Linked DNA regions of Homo sapiens. The protein of the gene in region 2 purifies or fractionates together with the protein of the main gene of each other region. This does not show direct contact. Each region holds a gene or a part of one and is shown on either strand. Other genes may lie near its edges.

What was found.
Region 1: the proteins of NKAPD1 (region 2) and CSNK2A2 purify together in Homo sapiens (affinity purification with mass spectrometry; 7 studies listed by BioGRID and IntAct, with this or other methods). This does not show direct contact.
Region 3: the proteins of NKAPD1 (region 2) and SCAF1 purify together in Homo sapiens (affinity purification with mass spectrometry; 2 studies listed by BioGRID and IntAct, with this or other methods). This does not show direct contact.

Annotation. Positions count from the first base shown.
Region 1 is NC_000016.10:58,188,027-58,191,677, forward strand, and holds part of CSNK2A2 (casein kinase II subunit alpha'), read right to left. Parts: intron 1-3,651.
Region 2 is NC_000011.10:112,077,190-112,080,840, reverse strand, and holds part of NKAPD1 (uncharacterized protein NKAPD1), read right to left. Parts: intron 2,627-3,651; coding exon 2,526-2,626; intron 433-2,525; coding exon 283-432; intron 1-282.
Region 3 is NC_000019.10:49,652,144-49,655,761, reverse strand, and holds part of SCAF1 (splicing factor, arginine/serine-rich 19), read right to left. Parts: coding exon 2,057-3,618; intron 1,414-2,056; coding exon 1,331-1,413; intron 1,111-1,330; coding exon 892-1,110; intron 1-891.

The DNA.
Region 1 (3,651 bases), on a different chromosome or scaffold from region 2:
CTGTGTGTGGGGTGGGGAAGGGGAGGGGAGGGGGAAAATATAACATACACACATGCCAGAGAAACCTTCATCTTTTGTTGGTCACTAAGATACAGCTTTGAACACATAACAAAACAGAGAAGGAGAGGACTATGAAACAAGAGCACTTGCATCACCTATAACAGGGGGCTCAACTGACAGGCTGGGCTCTCGCTGCGTCCTTGTGAGCCAGCTGCCATGATGACACCCGCTCTCCGCCCGCTGTGCCAGGGTTCCCAGGAGAGCAGATGTGGCTGCTGTGCATGTTCCCCGACTCCACTTAGAAACCTTACTCCTTAGTCCCTTTTTCATTAACGAGGGAGCTCGAAACTTTGGGGGAAAAAAGCACTGTACAATCTGATTAAAAAATAGCCAGGGAAGGACACACTACAAAATAACCGGCCTGTAAGATCAAACACGTCAATGTCATTCATGAAACAAACTGATCCAGACTTTTAAAATGTGACAACTGAATGTAACACATGACTACAGCTGAATATCATCATGTAATCTGGGATTTTCCTTTGCTATAAAGAACATTATAAGGATAGCTGGCAAATGTGAATGAGAGCTGTAGATTAGGTAACAGCAATGCATCAATGGTTACCTTCTAATTTTTTAATATGGCATTGTAGGGTTATGTAAGAAACTATTTTTAGGAAATGCATACCAAAGTATTTAGGGATGACTACGATTTACTCTCAAGCACGTCAGGAAGAAATACATAACATAAATGTCATTATATAGGTGTGTGTATATGTACACAAATGTGTGTGTATATGAGAGAGAAAGAGAAGGATAAAACAAATGTTAACATTTGAGGAGTCTGGGTGAAACAGATATGGGAATTCCTGCAACTTTTTTTAAGTCCAAAATTATGTTAAGAAGTTAAAAGAAAAATAAAAACTGGCTTTTTTTTTTTTTTTTTTTGAGACGGAGTCTCACTCCGTGGCCCAGGCTGGAGCACAGTGGCGCAATCTCAGCTCACTGCAAGCTCCGCCTCCCAGGTTCAAACAATTCTCCTGCCTCAGCCTCCCAAGTAACTGGGACTACAGGTGTGTGCCACCACGCCCAGCTAATTTTTTTGTATTTTTAGTAGAGACGGGGTCTCACCATGTTGGCCAGGGTGATCTCGTCCTGACCTCAGGTGATCCGCCTGCCTCAGCCTCCCAAAGTGCTGGGATTACAGGCATGAGCAACTGCGCCCGGCCAAAGCTGGCTATCTTATACTTATAAATTCAGCCAATGCTACCAGTTTAGTCAATGCCTTTCGATATAAGAAAATTCTAGATTTGTCATCCAATACTGGAAAGCAGCTATAGATCTATAAGAGTGGTAACAGAGAGGAAAAAAACCCACAGCCAGAGGCCTATATCCACCAAAAACCCTCTTCTAATTCTAACAGTACTCCTAACTCCTTACAGGCACAACCCATTAGTTGCCTTTATGACGCTGCCCCATGTAAAGTCTTGCATTGGTCTCCGGTTATTCAGCAACAGGTCAGGCCTGGACAACCCAGTTAAGATGAACCTCCCTCTCAATACATCTAAAGGTATCTGGCATAGCAACTGAAGCATATTTTGCTGCCCACCAGGTGTCTAACTTAAACTTCCCAAACTAGAGACTGGGAATAGCAGGGCAACTCTGAAGGTGGCACAAAGGAGTCCCAAGTCACAAAGGCAGCTAGAGTCCTCACATGCAAACAAAATACCAAGAAATGATAAAAAAGGAAGGTGACAGACCCACAGTCCAGGACACTTCCCTCCAAACCATCAAAAACTAAGCTACAGGTAGATCCCTTCAGCCTCAGTTTATTCCTCTGAACTGGAGAGATGCTCGAGAAACTAAACCAATGAGCTCTGAGGAGCTGAAAGTGATCCTTTTAATGTGAATCAGAGATAAAAAGTTAGGATTTATGAGGGAGGATTGTTGGTATCCTAAGGAAAATAAACCTAGTTTTACAGAAATAAGGATGCCTTGACTCTCCTGTCCAGAGCCTGTAGCCATTCACCACCAGTTACACAAAATGGAGAAAATACATATATTTCCACAACGATCTCACAGTTTCACTCTGCATGCTAGAAGAAGTCTCCGTCTGGGGTTCATTTATTCCAATTCAGAGACTATCTGTTTAAAAGATTCAAACTCAATCAGTTTAGCTATTGTCCAAACCAATAAAAAAATTTTTTTTTAACTTGAAATCTAGTAGACAAAGTGGTGAAAAAAAGAACAACTGAACTGACAAATTCAAGACAGGCAGGAACATATCTACAGCTCCTAGCTCTCAAATTTGGGGTTACTTTTACTCTACTACCAAACTAACAAGTGCTCCACCAAGATATTAATTTCATCACCTGCAATGAACAATGGTTGCCAAGAATGTAGAAGGACAGAGTAAAAAGAAAGTTCAGCCTGGATGATGGCACGTAATTCACTACCCTGGTGGCATCCCTAAAACTCACTGCACTTGACCTATATAAAAATATTATCTGAGCAATGTTATTTCATCACAGAAAACTTTTCCTCTAATCTTTCAAGTTTCATCACCCCAATTACATGATCTACTCCTTGAGGGTAACTGTTTACTCTCAGGAGTTAAAAAAAATTATTTAAAAAGGCAAGGCATAAATTCAAAATGATAATCAGATACTATCTCACACAAGTCAGGATAGCTGCTATCAAAAAAACCAGAAAAGAAGTGTTGGCAAGGATGTGGAGAAACAGCCACACTTGTACACTGCAGTCAGAATGTAAAATGGTATAGCCACTATGGAAAGTTCCTCAAAACATTAATCATAGAATTACCTTATGATCCAGCAATTCCACTTCTGGGTCTATACCCAAAAGAAGTGAAGCAGGGTCTTCAGGAGATATTTGTACACTCATATTCAAAGCAGCATTATTCACAATAGCTAAAACATGGAAGCAACCCATCCACTGATGGATGAATGGCTAACAAAATGTGGTATATACATACAATGGAAAATTATGTAGCCTTAAAATGGAAGGAAATTCTGATGCATGCAACAGTGATAAACTTGGAGGACATTATGCTGTGCAAAATAATCCAGCCACAAAAGGATAAATACTGTACAATTCCACTTATATGAGATACCTGGAGTAGTCAAATTCATAGAAACAGTAAGACGGTTGTTGCCAGGAAATGGGGGAGGGAGAAATAGGTAGTTACTGTTTAATGGATAGAGTTTCCATTTTACAAGATGAAGAGTTATGGAGATGGACGGCAGTGATGGTTGCACAACATTACCCACTGAACTGTACACTTAAGAATGGTTAAGATGGTAAATTTTATGTTATTTTATTTTATTTTTTTTTAGACGAGTTTCACTTTTGTTGCCCAGGCTGGAGTGCAATGGTGCAATCTCGGCCAACTGCAACCTCTGCCTCCCGGGTTCAAGCAATTCTCCTGCCTTAGCTTCCTGAGTAGCTGGGATTACAGGCACCCGCCACCATGGCCAACTAATTTTTTGTATTTTTAGTAGAGACGGAGTTTCACCAGGTTGGCCAGGCTGGTCTCGAACTCCTGACGTCAGGTGATCTGCCCACCTCGGCCTACCAAAGGGCTGGGATTACAGGCGTGAGGCACCGCGCCTAGCCTATGTTACATGTATT
Region 2 (3,651 bases):
TCCTTCTCACTTAGCATGATGTTTTCAAGGCCACGTTGTAACATGTATCTGTACTTCATTTCTTTTACTGCCAAATAATATTCCATTGTATGGATATATCGCATTTTGTTTACCCATTCATCAGTTGACAGACATTTGGATTACTTGGCCATTATTTTTTGGGGCCATTATTAATAATGCTGGTATGAACTTTTGTACACAAGTTTTTTGTGGGGACAATTAATTTTGATAAGTACACGTTCTCAGGCCAAATATTAATGCTCACAGGAATTAATCACAAACCTGTCTGGCATGTTTGCTTCATAATCATAGAACTTTTTATTCCAGGATTTAGCCTTAAGAAAATCATCTTCCAGTGTCCCAGAAATTTCATTCTTTGGCCTCCAATAGTATCTTTGACTTTCTTCATCAAAACCATCACTGCGCATCCGGCTAAAAGAGAAAGCAGAAGAACTTTTAGATGTAAAAGCAATCTGTGAGTTTACTTTATGGAACATCATGCACAAAACTCATGGAACAAGCTGAGGGGGAAGGAAACAACATGATACTGTTTAAAAAAAAAAAAAAAAAAGGCAAAGACATTATCTGCTCCTCTCTATACATTTGTGAAGTCCAGTGGAAGAAATCTGACCAGGCCTAGTGCAGTAGCTCATGCCTGTAATCCCAGCACTTTGATTATCTGTTCCTCTGTACATTTGTAAAGTCCAGTGGAAAAAAATCTGACCAGGCCAGGTGCAGTGGCTCATGCCTGTAATCCCAGCACTTTGGGAGGCCGGGGCGAGTGGATCACTTGGGGTCAGGAGTTCAAGACCAGCCTGGGGGACATGGTGAAACCCTGTCTCTGCTAAAAATACAAAAAAAGTAGTTAGGTGTGGTGGCACACGCCTATAGTCCCAGCTACTTGGAAGGCTGAGGCAGGAAAATTGCCTGAACCCGGGGAGGCAGAGGTTGCAGTGAGCCCAGATCATGCCATTGTACTCCAGCCTGGGCAACAGAGTGAGACTCCGTCTCAGGAAAAAAAAAAAAGAAAAAAAGAAAAAAATCTGACCATTAGTACCCATCCTATTGCAAAGCATAGAGAGATGAAATCAACTCTGGACTATGTCATGTGATAGTTCACTCGCTGATTCTCAACTAGGAGGGCATGCAAAGAGGGAAGCAGAACATAATCATAGCAAGGGACACTTCAAACTACCCTAGAGATTCTGAAATACACTTCCCTCTGTGCAAACCAGCAACTTACTATAGAGAGGTCCCAATAACAGTGGGAACAAGGTCTAACCCATGGGAATACTGGAGTAGGAAAAAAGTTGAGAACCACTGATCCAGCTTCTGTTTACCATTTCTACTAACTAGCCAGTAAGCTGCTAATCGGTTATCAAAAATTTTTAAGGGGCCAGGTCCAGTGGCTCACGCCTGTAATCCCAGCACTTTGGGAGGCCGAGGTGGGTGGATCACTTTGAGCTCAGGAGTTCAAGACCAGCCTGGCCAACATGGTGAAACCCTGTCTCTACTAAAAATACAAAAATTAGCCAGGCGTGGTGGCAGGTGCCTGTAATCCCAGCTGATTGGGAGGCTGAGGCAGAAGAATTGGCTGAATCCAGGAGGCGGAGGTTGCAGTGAGCCAAGACCACACCATTGCACTCCAGCCTGGGTAACAAAAGCGAAACTCCATCTCAAAAAAAAAAAAAAAAAAAAATTGTAAGGGCCTCCTATGTACCAGGTACTGGTCTAGCTGGCAGGAATATAGCAGCAAATGAGAAAATCACAAGCCCTGCTCCTAAAGAGTTTAAGTATTTCTTATATATGTAGCTCTTACACTTACAAGCGTGTAAGGATCTTCCCAATTATTCAAGCATTCCTAGGCCTCTCCACAAGGAAGATAACTAAGCCTGCATAATCCTTCATATTTACACTCAAGCTATTAAGGTAATGTGAAAAGGCTGTTGATCTGGTGAAGAGGGTGAATAGACAGGGTGAAGAAAAGTCTGAGGCCAGGCAAGTGGCTCATGCTTATAATCCCAACACTGGGAGGTTGAGGTGGGAGGACTGCGTGAGCCCAGGATTCTATACCAGCCTGGGGAACACAGCAAGACACCACCTCTACAAAAAAAAAGTAGCTAGGCATAGTGGCATGCACCTGCAGTTCCAGCTACAAAAAGAAAAGCCTGAAAGAATGAAAGATTAATAGAGAATAGAATGACTGATCAGCTTAGTGACCACAAGATTCCAGTATAAAATCTTCAGTTAAAAGCTATCAGGTAAGGTTAGAATCCACAGAACCCTACACATTCATAATTGTTCAGGTAGAATTTTTTAACTCTCCATTGTAAATAAGTACAAAGAGCAGGGCCATATGCGTCACAGCCATTATCTTTATGCCTGGGTCTAGATTTACGAAAGAAGGAAGGCTTAAGGACTCACAGAACTGAATTTATCCTTAATATACCAAAGTATTTTTAAACAAAAGTTGATGATTCTGAAAAAGATGAGAATTATTTTAGTTCTCAGAGCTGCAACTTCACCTTGAACTGCTGGGTAGCATTTTCCTTTTGGTCCCCCGGTAAGCATCTTCCATCTGTTTTTCCAGTTCTCTTATTTTCCACATATCTGATTCCTCCTGAATCTAGAATTTTTAAAAAGGAAATAAAAATAAGTTACTAAAAATAACTTTACATTACAGAAAAGTAACTAACTGGCCGGGCACAGTGGCTCACACCTGTAATCCCAGCACTTTGGGAGGCCAAAGCAGGCAGATCATGAGGTCAAGAGTTTGACACCAGCCTGACCAACATGGTGAAACCCCGTCTCTAATAAAAATACAAAAATTAGCCGGGCGTGGTAGCATGCACCTGTAATCCCAGCTACTCAGGAGGCTGAGGCAGGAGAATCGCTTGAACCCTGGAGGCAGAGGTTGCAGTGAGCCGAGATTGCACCACTGCACTCCAGCCTGGGCGATGGAGTGAGACTCTGTATCAACAAAAAAAGAAAAAAAAAAAAAAGCAACTAACTGAAAATACAATCTGACTAATTATTGGGCTACAGACTGGGCTATGATCAGGAACCTGGAAAACAAATTGGTTTCTCTAGAAAGTGGCTGAACAGTCCAATCCAGTAAATCTCAAATATGTGGAAATCTTCCCCAATAGAATTTTTAAACCGCTGCACAGACAAACATCACCTTATCAATCTTGCAATTATGCTGCGATTAGCAAATGATAATGCCACATTTCCAAAATGCAATATGATTTTAATTATATCATCTCAATTGAACCTTAAGCAATCTCATGAGGAAAATATAGCAGCTACCATTATTACATTTTACTGTAAAGAAACAAAAGCTCAGAGATTTTAACAAAGTCAAAAAACTAGTAAGGACAGGTCTTTAAACTCCCTAAGCTAAATCTCTTCTGGTAATATTATAATTTTTGTCAAAAATAAAATAAAATAAAATAATCAGTATGGCTGCTAGGGAATTTCTTGAAAAGCAGAATGTGATTACCCAAAGAACACATTTTATTTCTAAGTCTTCCTGCATAATTTCATTAGATCTGTGCTAGATTTATCTTTTTCTAGCTACCATTTTAAATCTAAGCTTACTATATAACTAGGGGCAGGTTAACATAATTGCATAGGCAGCTCGGGTAACAG
Region 3 (3,618 bases), on a different chromosome or scaffold from region 2:
GAGATCAAGGCTGAGGCTACAGTGAGCTGTGACTGTGCCACTGCATGCCAGCTTGGGTGACAAAGCGAGACCCTGTCTCAAAAACCAACCAACCAAGGCCGGGCACGGTGGCTCACACCTGTAATCCCTGCACTTTGGGAGGCCGAGGCTGGCAGATCACCTGAGGTCAGGAGTCAAGACCAGCCTGGCCAACGTGGTGAAATGCCGTCTCTACTAAAAATACAAAAATTAGCTGGGTGTGGTGGCGGGTGCCTGTCATCCCAGCTACTCGGGAGGCTGAGGTAGGAGAATCACTTGAACCCTGGAGGCGGAGGCTGCAGTGAGCCGAGATGGCACCATTGCACTCCAGACCAGGTGACAGAGCAAGACTCCATCTCAAAGAAAAACAAAAACAAAAACCCACATCTAGACCTGACCAAGAGAGAAACAGCTCCAGAGCCCAGGAGTAGGAGCCGGCCAGAGCAGCTGAGTAAGAACCTACATTACTGTCTGCCTGGCACCCATTCTCCCCTGCTTCATCTACAAACAGGTTCTTGAGTTTTCATTCGGAAACCACCCTCCCCCACTCACAGAGACGGAGACAGCGCGAGCAACAGATAATCAAGGGGTGGGCTGCAGCGCGGGGCATCTCTTCCAGGGTGTGTATATGTGGTGTGTACGCACACAGCCCCACACACGCACAGACGCGATTTTCCTTTGGACACGCCTAACGCATTTCCTGCTCACCCATTCCAGCAAAGTGGAGTTCCTTATGGTTCCATGACTTTGGTCTCTACGGCCCTGTCTCCCTGCCTCAGTCTCCCTTTCTCCTTGGGCCCCCGCGTCTCAGTTCCTGTCCATATTCTCTACAGAACTGTCAGCACCGCCCCACCTCTCCCCAGGCCAGCTCACCTTATCTGTGTCCCCACGGCCCTCAGAGCTGCTGCTGCCCTCTCTCTTGTCAGACGTGGCAGCCAGCCCGGTGGGGGTGGGGGGGGTCGAACCGCAGCCCCCCAGAGGGAGGCTGCCAGGAAGCAGGTAGCTGGAGGGGCCAGGGGGCAGACCCAAAGAGGTGGGCACAGGAGCTGGGGTCATCCCCAGACTTGAGGGTGGCTTTCTGTGGCTGAGGATCTGTGGGACGAGGACAGAGGGGTGATGAGTAAAGGGAGGTGGAGGGGAAGAGGGGACGTGCACCCCACTGTTCCCACGCTGACTTCCCCACAGCTGAGGCAACAGGCTCCTCTTCAGGCCGATACCTTGCCCCAGAGCTGCCAGGCCCGCGGTTCCTCTCCTAACCCGAGGCAATGGACAAAAGAAGGGGCGGCAGGGACTCTCCCCCAGGGGAGCCCACCTGGTTGGTGGCCTGGATCAGCTCCTGGGCCTTCGCTCGGCTCGCCAGGTTGGCTTCTTCCATCTTGAAGAGAAGTGCAGTCACTGCAGGAGGCAGAGAGGTGACAACATGAAGATGGGAGAGGTGACAGGACAGGAGCTGGTGAACCTCACCTGGACACCTGCTGTCATCTCCTGCCCTTGGCCCCAGAACAGCCACAAAGCCTCACGCTCAGAACTGGGAAAAGGGGGCCTTGGCCAATGAGAGAACAGCCCATACCACGAATGTTCTTGGGACTCCAGGTGTGTGGGTGCGGGGTTGGCCAGGGTCATGCAGTGATGAGACAGTGGCAGGAGTGAGATTCTGCCTCCTGACCCGCTGTGGCCAGTCCCAACCTCTCTCCCCACCTCTGCAGTCTGGTAGAGGCAACCGCCATCCGTAAGGAATACGATGCCCTGCTCAAGCCATTCTTTCTGGTCCCTCTCTCCTACTCCCCGTCTAGGGGAATCCCAGAACCCAGCCCACCACTCCAGTCTGTGCTGGCCACCACCTGCTCTCACCGGCCCCTCTCTCCCAGTACACCCAGGCACCTAGAGCCTGGCTGGCCTTTACTCACCCCCACCCTCCCAGTCTATGTCCCTATAAACCTCTCCCTGCCAGGGCACCCCACTGCCTCTAAGTCTGTACCCTCCAGTCCCCATCCTGTCTCACCTGCCCCAGCACCACCCTCCCCCAGGGGACACTCACAGGCCAGGACGCCGCTGGTGGTGCAGTCCACACCAGCTGGCAGATTCCAGGGCATGGGCGGGGGCAACGTGGGCAGCTGGGAGACACGGGAAGCTGGCCCGTCCTCCGCCCCCGAGTCACCGGCTGTGGACCCCGCGCTGGGGGCAGTGCTTGGGGCGGCTGCAGCAGTGCTGGTGGCCGTGGTGGTAGCAGGCTGCTGCTCCTCCTCCTCTTCCTCTTCCTCCTCCTCTTCTTCTTCCTCCTCCTCCTCCTCCGCCCCACCTCGGACCCCAGCCTCCTCAGTGGCCTCCTCGGGCAGGAAGGAGACCTCAGGTGTCTTGCAGCTGCTGTCCACGGTCTGCGAGTCCGGAGTGAGGGCAGGGGGTGGTGGGGCTGCCTTGGGGGGCGGGGTGCTAGGAACCTTGGCTGCCCGCTCCTCCCCGGACCAGGAAGTCTCCTCCGCCCCCTTGGTGCCTGCCGCCTGGCTGCAGCTATCCGCCTTGGACTTCTTCAGCGACACCTGGCCACCACTGCCCCCGCTGCCACCTCCACTGCGGACCTTTTTCCTGGTCTTGGATGGCTTGGTCTTTCCCTTGGTCCCCTTGGTTTTCTTGGCCCCTGCCTTGGCCTTGACCTTGGTCTTTTTGGGCTTGGTGCTGCCCGGAGCTGCTTTGGCCATCTCAGTGGGGGCCCGCTCGTCAGGTTTGAGGAAGGGGGAGCGACTCTCGCGGTCACGGCTGAATTTGACGCCAATGGAGCCCAGGCCGGCTGACGCGGCATCCTTGGCCGGGGTGGTGCTGCTGACACCCTCGCGGATCAGCACCGCCACCTTGGACTGCAGCTTCACCTTCCGGGAAGAACAGGAGGACGACGAGGATGAAGAGCCTGAGCCGCTGCTGACTGGTGGCTTTGGCGGGGGCCCTGAGGAAGGCGCCGACTCCTTGGGGGGCCGGGCCTTCTTGGATGACCTGTCCCTGTCCCTATCTCTGTCCCTGTCCCGATCCCGGTCACCCCCGTCCAGCGCCTTCCGACGAGACCCCTTCTCCCGGGAAGAGGAGGAGGAGGAGGCGGCCCCCGAGCGGCGCCGATCCTTCTGGCTGCTCTTGCCGCCCCGCTCCTCGCCGCTCAGTCCCTCGGAGTCGTACAGGACCTCCCGCTTAGGTGAGGAGGCCGGAGCAGGAGAGGGTCCTCGGGGGTCGGACTTGTCAAGCCGGCCCACCGTGATGGTCCGCTTGATGGCGAAGAGGTCGTGGTCCGTGAGGTCCTGGATGGAGGGTGGCACGGCCCCCCGGCGGCGGCTGTCGCGGTCACCACACGAGGTGGAGCCAGAGGGCGGCGGGGCGGGCGCCGGGGCCTTCTCGCTGCCATCCCCAGACCGCTTCTCACCCCGGGACCGCGACCGCTTCTTCTTCTTCTTGCTGCCGCCACCGTCCCGGTGTTTCCCGCGGTGCCGCTCGCGCCTCGAGGACGACGATGAGGAAGTGGCCGGGGGCGGGGAGGCGGAGCGCCGCCGCCGTCGCCGCTTCTCCCGGGACCGCGACCTGCGGCTGCCCCCGCGGCGGCGGTCGGTGCTGCGCGAGCGG